Linked DNA regions of Homo sapiens: all the other regions are linked to region 2. Evidence: fine-mapped expression QTL. A gene starts in region 2. Each other region holds a variant in brackets. All regions are shown on one strand. Distances are between the middles of the regions. Region 1 has its middle 7.7 kb from the start of C9orf163. Region 2 holds the start of INPP5E (inositol polyphosphate-5-phosphatase E). Region 3 holds the start of ENTR1 (endosome associated trafficking regulator 1).

Region 1 (5,215 bases), 51 kb before region 2:
GCCCAGCCCCAGACCTTCAGGGCAGGCCAGTGGCTTCAAACCAGAGCGGTGGGGAGTCTGAGATCCCTCTTTGGATTGCAAAGCACTGCCTGCCCTGGGCCCAGTCTCTCCAAGGAGGGATGTGAGCCCGAGGCCTCTACTATGGCTGGGGGCTGCGTCTGCCAGCCAGCGCTGGGCACCAGGACCAGGAGGGGCCACCGTGGAACTGCAGTGAGTGGCCTGACTCTTGTCTTCAAAGGGGGTGACCCAGCCGGAGTCCTGCCCATAAAACTCCCAGCACCCTGAAATTCCACTCCTGGGGGTCTGTCCGAAAGAAGTGAAAACAGGGACTCAAACAAACGCACGTGGCCACTTGCTGTCCCGGCATCACTCAGTACAGCCACAGACAGCCTGAGCGTCCACTGCCAACGACGGGTCAGCAAAACCGTCTGCTGTGACGGTGAACCTTAGTGTCAGCTTGGCCGGGCCATTTCGCCAAACGGAGTGTGTCTCTGAGGTGTTCTGGATGAGGTTCGCATTTGCATCCACAGCCCGGGTAAGGCAGTCCGCCCTCCCCAGTGTGGGTGGGCCCCGTGCGGTCCGCTGAGGCCTGGGGAGAACAATAGGCCGAGTGCCAGGGGTCCTCCCACCCAACCGCTTGCACTGGACATTGGTCTTTTCCTGCCTTCAGACTTGGACTGAAAACGTGGGCTCTTCCTGGGCCTGGAGCCCACCGGCCTTCGGACTCGCAACGCCATCAGGCCTCCTGCCTGCAACTGCAGACCCTGGGAACTGCAGGCCTCGAGGTCGTGTGGCCAATTCCCTGCAATAACCTCTCCAGTGGCACGTCTTATGGGCTCCGCTTGCCGGAAGAACCCTGACGAATGCGCACGAGGGAATATGATTCCACCGTAGAAAAGGAGGCGCTGACACCCACCATGCGGACAAGCCTTGGAAGCACGGTGCTCAGTGAAGGGTGCCGGCCGCAAAGGGCCGCAGGTGCAGTGACTCCATTTCTATGGGGTGCCTGTGGTCACCGAACCCATGGAGACAGAAAGTAGATTGATGGTTCCCAGAGCCGGGGGGAGGAGGAAAGGGGAGTGGCTGCTAAACGGCCCGGGGTTTTTTTTTGTTTTGTTTTGTTTTTATACTTTAAGTTTTAGTTTATTGTGGCACTGTTCACAATAGCAAAGACTTGGAACCAACCCAAATGTCCAACAATGATAGACTAGATTAAGAAAATGTGGCACATATATACCATGGAATACTATGCAGCCATAAAAAATGATGAGTTCATGTCCTTTGTAGGGACGTGGATGAAGACGGCCCGGGGTTTTACTTTGGAGTGACGCAAATGTTCTGGGCCCAGGGAGAGGTGGTGCGTGCACAGCCCTTCGAGTGCACTAAATGCCAATAACGCGGACACTTTTTTTTTTTTTTTTTGAGACGGAGTCTCGCTCTGTCACCCAGGCTGGAATGTGGTGGCGTGATCTTGGCTCACTGCAACCTCCGCCTCTGTGTTCAAGTGATTCTCCTGCCTCAGCCTCCAAAGTAACTGGGATTACAGGCCCCTACCACCACACCCGGCTAATTTTTTTGTATTTTTAGTAGAGATTGGGTTTCACCATGTTGGCCAGGCTGGTTTCAAACTCCTGATCTCAAGTGATCCACCCGCCTCGGCCTCTTAAAGTGCTGAGGTTACAGGCGTGAGCCACTGCACCTGGCCTAACTCGTACACTTTAAAGTGGTTAATTTTAGGTTCTGTGAGTCTCACCTCAATATGTTATTTTTTTTTTTTAATTAAAAAAAGTTTTTGAGACAGGGTCTTGCTCTGTCACCCAGGCTGGAGTGCAGTGGTGCCATGATAGCTTATTGCAGCCTCAACCTCCTGGGCCCAGGTGATCCTCCCACCTTGGTCTCTCTAGCAGCTGGGATTACAGGTGCACACCACCTCACCCACCCAATTTTTTTGTTATTTTTTGCAGAGATGGGGTCTCACTTTGTTGCCCAGGTTGGTCTCGAACTCCTGAGCTCATGCAGTCCTCTCCTCACCTTGGCCTCCCAGAGTGCTGGGATTACAGGTGTGGGCCACTGCGCCTGGCCACATATGCAACTTTAAATATTTCAGTAGCCACATTAAAAAGGTAAAAAGAAACAGGCAAAGTGTATATTAATACTACAGCTTAGTTAATCCAATATATCAAAAATATTATTTTAACACAACATAAAAAGTGAATGAGTTTTTTTTTGTTGTTTTTTGTTTTTTGAGACAGAGTCTCCCTCTGTCACCCAGGCTGGAGTGCAGTGGTGCGATCTCAGCTCACTGCAACTTCCGCCTCCCGGGTTCAAGCGATTCTCCTGCCTCAGCCTCCCGAGTAGCTGGGATTACAGGCACCTGCCACCACGCCCAGCTAATTTTTGTATTTTTAGTAGAGAGGGGGTTTCACCATGTTGGCCAGGCTGGTCTTGATCTCTTGACCTCGTGATCGGCCCACCTCGGCCTCCCAAAGTGCTGGGATTATAGGCGTAAGCCACCACGCCCGGCCGTGAATGAGATGTTTTATATTCTTTTTGTTTGTTTGTTTTTGGTACTGTGTCTTTGAAACCCAGGATGTACAGTACACTCACAGCACCCTAGATTGGGCCTGGCCACACTTTAAAAGGTGTTCAGTATCTCCAGGAGGCTCACGTCCAGATTCGGACTCTTCAGCAGGATGCCAAGGGGGCTCCAGACAGTTCCACCCAGCGCAGGAAAACACCAAGTGTATCTTCAGCCTGGTGACTCACTCCACGCCGCTGCCGGCGTGAACCCCGAGTGTGGCGCTGCGTCCCTCTGGATAGAGCAAAGGAGGGTCCCAAGAGCCCGGAGGCACCAACTCATCAGGGCCCACAAATCAGGCCCCCGGCAGGCAGGGCTGCCTCCATCCAAGAGGGAAGCACGGTGCCGTAGCCCCCGGGCTGCTCCAGGGATCGACAGGCCTGTGCTGCCTTCATCCCAAAAGTCTCACTTGCAAAGGGTGTCCGTGGGGCTCAACTGCGTGCTCAGCGGTGGACTGATTTCGTTCTGTGTGGCTCCTTATCTCATCGTGGACCCAAATCCACGAACCACACATGAGGAGCTCTGCTGGAGGGGGCAGC[A/G]CTGGGCAGAGGCAGACAAGGGGGAGCGTCACGCGGCTGTTTCCCGTGGTGAGCATCCACCAGCAGCGGTTCCTGGTGGGACACCGACGTATTCGTCTGCAAAAGTAAAAGTGTTTCAAAACAAAACCGGGTCCAGCTTGGTCCCGGTGCGTTGAAAGTGCTGGCGTTGGCCAGGCGTGGTGGCTCACGCCTGTAATCCCAGCACTTTGGGAGGCTGAGGCGGGTGGATCACAAGGTCAGGAGATTGAGACCATCCTGGCTAACACGGTGAAACCCCGTCTCTACTAAAAAATACAAAAAATTAGCCGGGCGTGGTGGCAGGCGCCTGTAGTCCTAGCTACTTGGGAGGCTGAGGCAGGAGAATGGCGTGAACCTGGGAGGCGGAGCTTGCAGTGAGCAGAGATCATGCCTCTGCACTCCAGCCTGGGCGACAGAGCAAGACACTCTCACAAAAAAAAAAAAAAAAAAAAAAAAAAAAAAAAAAAGTGCTGGCGTTAGTGGAGGTCTCTCAGAGGGGGCGTTGCAGGGCCTCCCACGTTACTCAGGCTTTGCAGACGAAGACGCAGGGTCAGTGAGTGAGCGAGCTTTGGGAAAGGCTGTTCTTCAATCTGCATCTTGAAGGTGGCTGGGTGGCGCCTCAGTCGCCTGCCCCGACGTGACTCCCGATCTGGCTGCTTTGTGTCTTTGCTTTCCACCTGGCGGCTGCTGTCCTGGCTGTTGCTGTACCTCAGTGTCCTCGTGGGTCAAGTGGGGACCTGGGTGCTGGCCCTGGGCCTGCGATGGTGAGCTGCTGGTGCACGCTGGGCATGGGGTGAGGGCTCAGAAAGGGAACAGCTCTTGTTATCGTTAGGAGGTTTTCAATCGCATTCTTTGTTCTCCACCTGCATGCCGTGTTGGCACAGTTAAGCCTGGCGGCCCCTTCAGCAGGTGTCCTAACCGTCTACATTTTAAGATGGACAAGTCTAGGCTCATGGAGATTGCAGGACTGAGCTGCGAAGCTTTATTCATGCCCAACACGACAGGTGCCAGGTGCCCAGGGCCTCAGAGGTGGGTTTCCGTTGTTCTTCACACAACCTTGAACTTGTGGCCCATCCCTGGACCTTACAGCACAGGACACACTCTCAGTGTTTGTTAGGAATCTATAATTTTCTGCGGAGTCACGCGTGATATTTGCTGTGGCTTTTGGTATATCTTCCACTCTATCGCACGGGATTTTCTGGTGAAAATGTGCCCTGGGTCCACACAAACGTGCACATTCTACCACAGCCTTTGTCGTTCTGTTTGGCATTTTTCCATTTAATAAAATGAACCTTAGAAAAGTTATAACTACGGCCAGGCGTGGTGGCTCACACCTGTCATCCCAGCACTTCGGGAGGCCGAGGCGAGAGGATCACCTGTGGTCAGGAGTTCCACACCAGCCTGGTCAACTGGTGAAACCCCCCTCTCCACTAAAAATACAAAAATTAGCTGGGCACCATGGTGGGCACCTAGAATCTCAGCTACTTGGGGGGGCTGAGGCAGGAGAATTGCTTGAATTCGGAAGGAGGAGGTTGCAGTGAGCTGAGATTGCACCACTGCACTCCAGCCTGGGGGATACAGTGAGACTCGGTCTCAAAAAAAAAAAAGAAAAGTGTATAACTTTACTTTTTTTTCTTTTTGTGGAGATGGAATCTTGCTATGTTGCCCAGGCTGGTCTCAAACCCCTAGGTTCAAGTGATCCTCCCACTTTGGCCTCCCAAAATGCTGAGACGACAGATGGGAGCAACCTCACCTGGCAAGCGTGCACCTGTTACTTTGGCCGACTCAGAGGCGGCTCTCTGCCTCCCCCTGGTGGCACTGCTCTGCCAGCGCCCCACAGGTCCTCCCGAGTGACCACAGGGCAGAAATGGCCCTCACCCCACGCCCAGGGCCATCCCCCGCGACACTGCTATTATCCTGTTTTACACATGAGGAAGCTGGGGCTCAAAGAGGTTAGGCGACTTAGCCAAGTTCGCCCATTCACTGAGCCAGGGCTATGTGATTCCCGGTCCGTGTCAAACCACGAGGAGTCACCTGCCCTCAGAGGAGCAGGAAGGCCTGTAGAGTTGATGCCATCCAG
Region 2 (5,215 bases):
CTCAGCCCCCTTGGGCCTGACTGCATGCCCTTCAGCTGGGGAGTGTTCTAGAATGTTTCCTGTGGTTTCCCTCCCTCAGCCTCGTCTCTCCTCCCCTCTCCCTTGCCTGTGGAGTATAGACTGGCTGCCAGTGTAGGGGAGCTGAGCGGGGTCCAAGGTCTGGGGCCTCTTGGGATTCAGCCCCATTGTCACCCCAGCCTGCCCTCACAGCCTCACACACTCTTGACTGCAGGCTTCCTGGGCTGGGGCCCAGCACTCCTGCCCTGGTCCTCTACAAACGAGGCCGAGGCTCCCAGGACCACTGCCCCCAAGCTGGCCCCTGGCTGTCACCTGCTTTTCAGCATCCAGACTAGTCGATTTTGGTATTGTCCTGCTCCCTTTACCATGTGGTTAGTGCCTTTACAAAAATTCCTTGGCTTTCCCCTCCATGAGGCTTTGCGAGGGAGCAAGAGTGGATGCCTGCATTGGCCAGCTGTCTGCAACTGAGGTCCCCGCGTCCCATGCAGTAGGCCAGGCCTGGCCACCACTTGTCCCTGGACTCTGGACAGCCAGGCTGGCTCTGCAGAGCAGCTCCAGGTCTCATGGCCCTGATGAAACCACGGCACCTCCTGGCCACCCTCACAGTAAACATTGATGGTTAAGGATACAGTGCTTTCAAGGGAGCCCAGGACTTGGCACTGACTTGTCGGTTTCCAGAGGCTTTTGGAAACAAAAACGAAGCCTTCAGCTTGTCAGCGCCAATGGCCCGTGTGGTTCATTATGTGGACCAGCCCCTGCCACGCTGCAGCCGAGCACTGCTCACCCTGGGGGCAGGCATGCAGAGGTCATGCTGTTGATTTCATTCCAGGCCTGCGCCACCTCCGGGAGCTCAAGGCTAGGGAGGATTGGCCAGAGGAAGCACCTGGTGCTGAACTAGGCTTGCCCTGCTGTGAACTTGCACTTGGAGCCCTGACGCTGCTGTTCTCCCCGAAGAACCCGACCGACCTCCGCGATCTCCGTCCCGCCCCCAGGGAGACACAGCAGTGACTCAGAGCTGGTCGCACACTGTGCCTCCCTCCTCACCGCCCATCGTAATGAATTATTTTGAAAATTAATTCCACCATCCTTTCAGATTCTGGATGGAAAGACTGAATCTTTGACTCAGAATTGTTTGCCGAAAAGAATGATGTGACTTTCTTAGTCATTTAGGATGATTTAAGGATATAGTATTCCTGGTCATTTAAGAATGTTCATTCATTGAAGCCGGAGCTGTCTCTGCCACAGGAGAGCCACATGGTCGGTAGTAACCAGGGCCTCTCCAAGCCCAGCTGTGAGTCACTGCCCAGTGAGTCCCGCGCTTCCTTTAAGGTGCTGGGAGCAAAGAGAGGGTGACTGAGGCAGACCCCAACCCCTGCTCTGCACCATCTGGGCCCTCGCCGTGTTTGAACCTGGCTGAATGAGTGGAGGGCGCTGTGTTCTCAATCAGCGCCTCCGAGGAGCCGTGGGGTTCCTTCGGCATTAGTTCACGGTTTTTGAGAGAGGCCTTAGTTACTGCAGTGAATTTCTTTCCTGTTGCAAAGACGCTTCCAGCCTCACTTTACTTTCTGTGGCCTGATGAGGACCATGGGTGATTTTGTGTACCCAAAGCGCTGGGGACTGCCCACCGTGTGGCCCAGTCACTGGGAAGGAGCCCCAGAGAGCCGGCTGTCTGACATGATGGCTCAGGGTGGTCATCCAGGTTGAAAACTGACCGTGTGATGTTTGATTTGGGCTTCATTTCGTGTGTAGGAGCACGGTTAGACTCACTGTTAAGGAAGCTGGATGCACTTCTCTAAAAGGCTGCACTTTCCGTGAGCACTTTTCGTGGTACAATCCACATGACCCACTTTCTCCCCTGGGGGACGTTGGTTCAGAGGTTGGTAGCACTTGGGGAGAGTATCTTAACACAGTTTCTTGACAGCAGCTCTGGAACTTAGTATTTCTGCCCCGAGTTTTGCCACACTGAGACTTTGAGTAGCTCCTGGTGGACTCAACCCTGTTCAACTCAGAGACGGGCCTCCTCTCACTGATGCAAAGCTTTAAGGCTTCTCTGACTGTTCTGAAACTCTTCGTATTCTTGTCAAGTCTAAAGAGACTGAAGAAAAGATTTAAATACTAATAAAAATCAGTAGATAATTTCTGTAGGTTCTGCTGGAGGAATACAAACTGTTTGGTGTTTTAAATTTAAGTGTAGAAATTGTAGAATGTGGAATTAGCACAGATCCTTCCTGGCTTTCTGTTTCACTTGATCATTTAGCCCAGACCACCCAGGATGTTTTCCAAAATGTTCCACAGGCGTGTCCCGCTGGATCCATTTGTCCTTGTCACTTGGAGAAAGGCCAGTCCCTGTGACGGGGCAGCCCTCTCTGTCCCTCGGTCAGCTCGTGTGAATCCTGGGACCTCTTCCGGTCGGCTCTGCCCGCTGTTCTGGGGTCGACTGCCACGACTTTTGATTCAAGAAGCTTCCTCCAGGCGGGAGCGGCTATTTTTCCTAAATGAGAATTGTTACATTGCAAATTGTTGAATAAAATATTTTGCGCTCCTTCAAGCACCTTCACCTGTGGTTCCCTTTGGTTTGCTGGAAGCGAGTGAGTGCAGGTGTCCGCAGGCCTCGGCGCTGTCCTGGACCGCACCCAGGTCCTCTCCGGGGACCTGCACCTGCCTCGCTGGGACCTGCCGGACTGCGGGGCTGCCGGGTTGGGAGGGGCGTGGGAGACCCGTCCGGGTCCGGTGCGGCGCAGTCCTCCGGCCGCCAGGGGCCGCTGTGGGCGGGGCCGGGGCGCGGGGCGGGGACCGGGCGCGGCCCCGCGGCGGCGGTTGCTGGGTCCCGGCCGGGCTGACTCCGCTTCTGGGCGGCCGGGCCTCCGCGAGTACCGGGTCGACTTCGGAGTCTGCGAGCCCAGCCAGGGGTGCCCGCTTCCCACCCCTCTCCCCGAGCGGCGTCCCCGTCGGGGTCGAACCTCCCCCGCGACAGGCGCCCAGCCGCCTGTTCCCCCAGGCCTTGCCTGCGGACCGCCCTGGGAACGGCGTCTGGGAGCCCCGAGGGGCTGGCGGGACTCGGGGCCCGGGCCATGCGGCAGCCGCCCCCGCCCCTCCGCGACCATCCCCGGCCCAAGCGGGAGCCGCAGCGGCGTTTCTGCTCCTCGCTGCGCCGGCGACCCCGGACCCGGCACCCGTGACCCCTCGCGCTGCCTGCGGCCTCGCGCCGAGGCCTGCCCCGGGAGAGACCGTCCATGCCGTCCAAGGCGGAGAATCTGCGGCCCTCCGAGCCGGCCCCGCAGCCGCCGGAAGGGAGGACGCTCCAAGGACAGCTTCCCGGCGCTCCGCCGGCCCAGCGCGCGGGGTCCCCACCCGATGCTCCGGGCTCCGAGAGCCCCGCGCTTGCCTGCAGCACTCCGGCCACGCCCAGCGGCGAGGACCCGCCAGCCCGAGCAGCACCCATCGCCCCGCGGCCCCCCGCCAGGCCTCGACTGGAGCGAGCCCTGTCCCTGGACGACAAGGGCTGGAGGAGGAGGCGTTTTCGAGGCAGCCAGGAGGACCTGGAAGCCCGGAATGGGACCAGTCCCTCCAGGGGCTCAGTGCAGAGCGAGGGCCCCGGGGCCCCCGCCCACAGCTGCTCCCCGCCCTGCCTGAGCACCTCCTTGCAGGAAATCCCCAAGTCCCGCGGGGTCCTGAGCAGTGAGAGAGGGAGCCCGTCCTCGGGGGGTAACCCTCTCTCTGGGGTGGCCAGCAGCTCCCCGAACCTCCCGCACAGAGACGCCGCCGTGGCGGGGAGCTCGCCCAGGCTGCCCAGCCTGCTGCCCCCGCGCCCACCGCCTGCCCTGAGCCTGGACATCGCCTCCGACTCCCTGAGGACAGCAAACAAGGTCGACTCGGATCTTGCAGACTACAAGCTCCGCGCGCAGCCGCTCCTGGTGCGGGCCCACAGCAGCCTGGGCCCCGGCCGGCCGCGGAGCCCCCTGGCCTGCGACGACTGTTCCCTTCGCTCGGCCAAATCCTCCTTCAGCCTCCTGGCGCCCATCCGCAGCAAGGACGTCCGCAGCAGGTAGGGAGGGCCTGGCGGGTGCAGCGCCCGCGCCGCCTTCGTTGTAGTGTTCAGGCTGCTGGAACCTCGTGAGACCGTTCCCATCAGCAGCGTTTAAGATGCCTAACCGGAAAGAACGAAGCGGGTCTCCCGCAGCCACCCCATCTCCCAGCCCCACCCCACAGCAGCGCCCTTCCCAGAACTTTTCCTGTGCGTTTCAGAACCATTCGTGGGCGTGACGTTGTGTTAAGGTAGACAGGATGGCATCCTGCATACAATTACGTATCTGGCGCTTTTTCTTGTTTAGTCTTGGGAAATGTCGTCAATGTATACGATCCGCCCCTTTGGTTGTTTTTGTTTGTTACTCTCTCTGTCGCCCAGGCTGGAGTGCAGCGGCGCGATCCCGGCTCACTGCAACCTCTGCCTCCTGGGTTCAAGGGATCCTCCTGCCGCAGCCTCCTGAGAATCTGGGATTACAGGCGCCCGCCACCACACCCAGCTAAATTTTGTATTTTTAGTAGGGGCGGGGTTTCGCCGTGTTGGCGAGGCTGGTCTCGAACTCCTGGCCTCGGCCTCCCAAAGTGCTGGGATTCCCGGCGTGGGCCACTGCGCCCGGCCTGCCCCCTTTGTTTTTTTCTGCGGCAAGAGGCCCCAGATGTGTTGAGGCTACTTTCGTTTAGCCACTTGCTCATGAGGAACATTTTGGTGGGCTCCAGCTGTTGCTGGAAGGAACTGCAGCTGAACCCATGACCTCTCCCAAGCCTGGTCTTGTCTTGGGGTCTCAGTCTGGGGGCCTGTCCTGAGATGCTCCCACTATGACTTGGCAGAGTCACCTGCACCCTTCTTTTCCTCCCCCCACCCCACTGCCATGGTGCCCAAGTCTTGTCTGTCAGCCGCGGCGGGAGGCAGGACAGGTGTGAGAAGGGAGAGGTGTGAGGTGGTTTCTGTGTTGGTGTCCTGGGGCCGTTGTAACTCATGACCACAGACTGGGAGGCTTGCAACAGCAGAGCTGGACTCTCTCCCAGTTCTAGAGGCCAGAAGTCTAAAATCAAGGTGTGGCCACGCAGCCTCTCTCCAGAGGCTCAGGGGAGGGTCCTCCCGCTGCCTCCCGCTCCTGGGGCCCCACTTGTTCCTTGGCTTGTGGCCGCATGCTCCAGTCTCTGCCTCTGTCTT
Region 3 (5,202 bases), 31 kb after region 2:
GAGGAGCGGTGGGTACGGAAAGGGTTCTTAAACGTCAGAGATCAACGGACAGACCGCAGCAACCGAGAGCCTGGACCCTGGTGTCAGAACCCTGCGGGTCTAACAGAGCTGGGCCCCCACCGGCTCAGCCTCCTGAAGGAGCACGCGGTAGGTGAAGCGCGGGGGCAAATATGAGGCATGGCCTCGGAGAAGGCCCGTCGACCCGGGAAGTGAGGGGGGGAGAGGACCCAGCAGCCGGGGAGAGGAGAGACAGATGGGACTGCGTCCCCGGGCTCGAGGCGCAAAGCAAGGCAGGGCCCCCGTCGCCTCGGGGACACCAGTGTCCCGAAGTGCGAGCCCGTCCCACGGGCGCCATGTCACCTGTAGAAACCGAAGACGGAGCGTCCAGAAAGACTCGAGCCGCCCCCGCCCCAGGCCGAAGCCTGGTTCGCCTTTGGCTCACCTCAGCCGCGAACAGCCCCAAGAACCCGAGCCCCGCAGCAACCGCGTCGCCGCCAGCACCACAGCCGCCATCTTGCGTCTCCGCCCCGCTTCAGTCGTCACTTCCGCTTCCGCCCACGGCTTCCCCTCCCCCTCGCCGACGGCCCAAGGCGTTCAGGCACGCGCTTTCGGTGCTCGGAGCGGAAGCAGCGGCGAGAGGCTCGGAGGCGCGGGGGCGGCCGAGCGGCGGGCGACGGGGGCGGGCGACGGGGGCGGGCGACGCGGGCCGCGGCACGGGCGGAGCCGGGGCCATGGAGCCGCCGCTGCCGGGCTAGGCAGGTCGTGCCCCGCCGGGCCGGCGGCGATGTCGGGCTACCAGCGCCGCCCGGGCGCCACCCCGCTGTCCCGAGCCCGGAGCCTCGCCATTCCCGACGGTGAGCGGGGCAGGGGCCGAGTCCAGCGGTCCAGGTGGGCGGCGGCCGCCCCGGCACGCAGTAAAGTCGCTGTTGTCGTTGCTTCCAGCTCCAGCGTTCTATGAGCGCCGGTCTTGTCTCCCCCAGCTAAATTGTGAGCGCCCCCATGGCAGGGACCTGGACTCCCCCTTCTTCGGCATTCGGCCGGCCTTTATGTGCTATGTGCCCAGCCCGGTGCTGGCTTCCGTGGGAGACACAGGTGAGAGACGAGGGCGCCGGCCCCGGGGACGCTTCCAGTTCCCGCGCCACGTGTGGCACCTCCGCTGCAGCACGAGCTCGTCCATTGACCCATCAATGTGCAGAGCGCTCACTGCGTGCCAGGCACTCGGAATTCAAAGGCGGAGTCCCCTGCTAGGAGCTCACAGTCTGGTTGCGGGGAGACCTCCCCCAAGACAGACAGTTCCAGTACAGGATGGTTAGTGCCCGGGGAGCACAGGAGCCCGCCCGCTTTCCTCGTGGGGCTGGAGTCGGGGTGCCTTCACCTAGTGGGCAGTGATTGGAAACCGAGCTGGAGCATTCCATCTGCCTCCACAGCCGGGCAGTGGCCAGATCTGGTTCGTCCTCGTTCTACCCAAGCAGAAGTGCTGCTGGGTGCCCGGGGTGTGCAGGAGTGTTTGTGTGGTTATGCCAGGATCTGAGGACATTCGGGGGTTGTCACAAGACAAGAGGACGCGCTTGCCCCGGCTGGGCTTCAAAATCTGCTGAGGAGCCGCTTTCAGACCACGGACACCAGGGCCAGTCTGCAAGTCAGGCCATCTCCAGGGTCACAAGTCTGGGAGCTTGTGTTTTTTTTAAAGTTTTCTCGGCTGACCGGGCGCAGTGGCTTACGCCTGTAATCCCAGCACTTTGGGAGGCCGAGGCAGGCGGATCATGAGGTCAGGAGATTGAGACCATCCTGGCTAACAGGGTGAAAACCCGTCTCTACAAAAAATACAAAAAAATTAGCCGGGCGTGGTGGCAGGTGCCTGTAGTCCCAGCTACTCGGGAGGATGAGGCAGGAGAATGGCGTGAACCCAGGAGGCGGAGCTTGCAGGGAGCCGAGATCGCACCACTGCACTCCAGCTTGGGCGACAGAGCAAGACTCCGTCTCAAAAAAAAAAAAAAAGTTCTCTAGACTGTGAGAACCACTGCAGTGGAGACTCCATGTGCAAAAGAAAAAAACCAAATGTGAGGTCATAAAGACTTCCTGCCAGCATGGTGGGTGACATTGTTTCTTTGCAGATTTTGGCTATGGAAAGGGGAAATGTTCTAAGCAGAGCCCGTCAGGAGCCCACGGGACACATTTTGGAGGTAGAGTAGTTCAGCAACCTTTTCTTCTTGTCTCCATCCAACACAGTGCCAGGCACGTGTCTGGTGGGACTGTCAATGTGACTGGCTATGTGGTGTAGCTGGAGCCCAAAAGAGCAGGTGGGGGTGGGATTTCAAGGGTTCAGTCTTGATCCTAGAGTAGCAGCGAGGTGACATCAGGGAGCGGGGAAGCCCCACCTGGGGGGCTGGGGCCACAGGAGCCAGCTTTACATGGGGCTCACAGCTGGGAGGGTCGAGTGTGGCTGCTTAAGTCCCCGGAGGGTGGGAAGGCGGTGGCAAGAGGGAGAAGGGAAAAGTGGGCGTTATTTAGGCTACCTAGGTAGGAAAGTCGGGAAGAGGGTCAGGGGGCACTGGGTCCCCAGCGTTGCAGCACCTGAGGAGCT[G/T]GTTGTTGTTGTTGTTTTTTGAGACAGAGTCTCGCTCTGTCGCCCAGGCTGGAGTACAGTGGCACGATCTCGGCTCACTGCAAGCTCCACCTCCCAGGTTCACGCCATTCTCCTGCCTCAGCCTCCCGAGTAGCTGGGACTACAGGCGCTCACCACCACGCCTGGCTAATTTTTTGTATTTTTAGTAGAGATGAGGTTTCACCGTGTTAGCCAGGATGGTCTCAGTCTCCTGACCTCGTGATCCGCCCGCCTTGACCTCCCACAGTGCTGGGGTACAGGCGTGAGCCACCACACCTGGCCACCTGAGGAGCTTTGAGAGCTCCTAGCACAGGTTGACCTCACACCAGGGAGCTGGGTGTGTGCAGTGGAGTGGCTTGGGTCGTTTTAAAGCTCCCCAGGGGAGCTTTAGTGAGCAGCACAGTGTGGGAGCAGGGGCCGAGGGGTGGAAGGAGAAGATTGCAAATGCAGACGCACGTCTGTGTCACTGCCCACCTTCAGCCACCTTCACACTTCCTAGTGCTGCCTGAGTCATGGTAGAATGACAAGCGTGGCTGCCCGATCTCACATGTGGCCATGCTCTGGAAAGACAGGTGAACAGGAAGGTTCCCTTTCAACGCTCTTCAGTAGACTTTATGCATTTGTGATGTCTGTTATTTCAGATGACAGATTTGAAGATCTGGAAGAGGCAAATCCATTCTCTTTTAGAGAGTTTCTGAAGACCAAGAACCTCGGCCTCTCGAAAGAGGATCCGGCCAGCAGAATTTATGCAAAGGTAAATCCACGGCACTGTGGGCGATGGCTCTGTGGGACGTTTCTGTTCCGGCCTCTGCAGCCTCCTTTGGAGGAATCGTGCATGAGTGTGGCAGAGCAGGCAGGCGTCAGTGCTGGGGAGCAGCTCTGGGCTCAGAAGCTGCTGGGCTCCTTCCGGTAGAGAGATTGGGCCTTTCTTCTTGTTGCGAGGCAGAACACAGAAAGGAAGATGCGCTCCGAGTCAGAAGCATGGCCTCCATTGTTTTTTTTTTTTTTTTTTTTTTAGGAAGCCTCGAGGCATTCCCTGGGACTTGACCACAACTCCCCACCCTCCCAAACCGGCGGGTATGGCCTGGAGTATCAGCAGCCATTTTTCGAGGATCCGACAGGGGCTGGTGACCTCCTGGATGAGGAGGAGGATGAGGACACCGGATGGAGTGGGGCCTACCTGCCGTCCGCCATCGAGCAGACTCACCCCGAGAGGGTCCCTGCCGGCACGTCGCCCTGCAGCACATACCTTTCCTTTTTCTCCACCCCGTCGGAGCTGGCAGGGCCTGAGTCTCTGCCCTCGTGGGCGTTGAGTGACACTGATTCTCGCGTGTCTCCGGCCTCTCCGGCAGGGAGTCCTAGCGCAGACTTTGCGGTTCATGGAGAGTCTCTGGGAGACAGGCACCTGCGGACGCTGCAGATAAGTTACGACGCAGTAAGTGAGCCTCACGGCGCCCTCTGGCACAGCGCCTGTCCGAGCGGCTTCTCCCGGGGAGAACCTGGAGCCATCCTACCTCTTGGGTGGCCTGGTTTGATTTCCAGGACAAGGCGATTTGCGTGACAGCCTGCTATCCACTTTCCCTTTGACTTTGCTTCTGGTTACACGTGGGAATAGAACCGGCTAAAGAGGACTGGTGAGCTAGAAGCTGTGAATTGGATGCAGTTGGGCACTTACAGGGCTGTACCCTCAGTAAAGGCAGGCTGCAGTCGCCAGCTTGCTAAGTATTCCAAGAGGAGGAAAATTTTTAAAAAATTATAATCACCTAAAAGGTTATAAGCTCTGAATAAAAAAAAAAATTTTTTAGCTGGGCGCCGTGGCTCACGCCTGTAATCTCAGCACTTTGGGAGGCCGAGGTGGGTGGATCACCTGAGGTCAGCAGTTTGAGACCAGCCTGGCCAACATGGTGAAACCCTGTCTCTACTGAAAATACAAAAATTAGCTGGGCGTGGCGGCAGGCGCCTGTAGTCCCAGCTACTTGGGAGGCTGAGGCAGGAGAATCGCTTGAACCCGGGAGGCGGAGGTTGCGGTGAGCCGAGGTCACGCCACTGTACTCCAGCCTAGGCGACGGGCGAAACTCTGTTTCAAAAAAAAGAAAAATTATTTTCTTCCTGAGACAGTGTCTCACTCTGTTGCTCATGCTGGAGTGGAGTGGCACGATCTCGGCTCACTGCAACCTCCGCCTCCCGAGTTCAAGTGATTCTCCTGCTTCAGCCACCCGAGTAGTTAGGACTACAGGTGCCCGCCACCACTGCTGGCTAATTTTTGTATTTTTAGTAGAGACGGGGGTTTCACCGTGTTGGCCAGGCTGGTCTCAAACTCCTGACCTTGTGATCCGCCCACCTCGGCCTCCCAAAGTGCTGGGATTACAGGCGCGAGCCACTGCCCCCGGCCTCTGAGTAAAATTAACTGGCATCTGTGACCACAGGTCTTTGAAAAGTGCCTGCCTCCGTCTGTGGTCTCCCTCTGTAGTGGCTGCAGGTGGATGCTGCACTGACCCAGCATCTCTGCTTATCAGGAGGCTCTGGAGCCACACCGCAGAAGCACACGCCCTTTTGAGCCAGACATGCTGACTTTCTAATAAGGATGTTCTCTCTCCACA

The links. PIP is the estimated chance that this variant, and not a neighbour inherited with it, causes the effect.
Region 1: its variant is fine-mapped to the expression of INPP5E in skeletal muscle (GTEx, PIP 0.96).
Region 3: its variant is fine-mapped to the expression of INPP5E in blood mononuclear cells (TOPMed, PIP above 0.99). The same link has a PIP of 0.9 or more in T cells.

Annotation. Positions count from the first base shown.
Region 1 is chr9:136,488,542-136,493,756 of GRCh38, reverse strand. No RefSeq gene overlaps it. Among named protein-coding and RNA genes, the nearest start is that of C9orf163, 7.7 kb to the right of the region's middle. RefSeq lists a silencer at 4,847-4,896. The variant A/G (reference allele first, on the strand shown) is at 3,118.
Region 2 is chr9:136,437,456-136,442,670 of GRCh38, reverse strand. INPP5E (inositol polyphosphate-5-phosphatase E) reads left to right here and starts at 2,826. Exons shown (of 10, transcript NM_019892.6): 1 at 2,826-4,063. The coding sequence starts at 3,252. SEC16A (SEC16 homolog A, endoplasmic reticulum export factor) reads left to right here. Exons shown (of 32, transcript NM_014866.2): 32 at 848-2,566. The coding sequence ends at 916. RefSeq lists silencers at 2,668-2,867, 2,918-3,097, 3,158-3,647 and enhancers at 2,720-3,353, 3,354-3,988, 3,938-4,047, 3,989-4,622.
Region 3 is chr9:136,405,980-136,411,181 of GRCh38, reverse strand. It overlaps ENTR1 (endosome associated trafficking regulator 1), which reads left to right and starts at 568. Exons shown (of 10, transcript NM_001039707.2): 1 at 568-854; 2 at 943-1,092; 3 at 2,115-2,183; 4 at 3,244-3,356; 5 at 3,621-4,037. The coding sequence starts at 785. PMPCA (peptidase, mitochondrial processing subunit alpha) reads right to left here and starts at 524. Exons shown (of 13, transcript NM_015160.3): 1 at 443-524. The coding sequence starts at 513. RefSeq lists enhancers at 286-335, 366-455, 1,306-1,465, 3,671-4,259 and silencers at 666-755, 896-945. The variant G/T (reference allele first, on the strand shown) is at 2,585.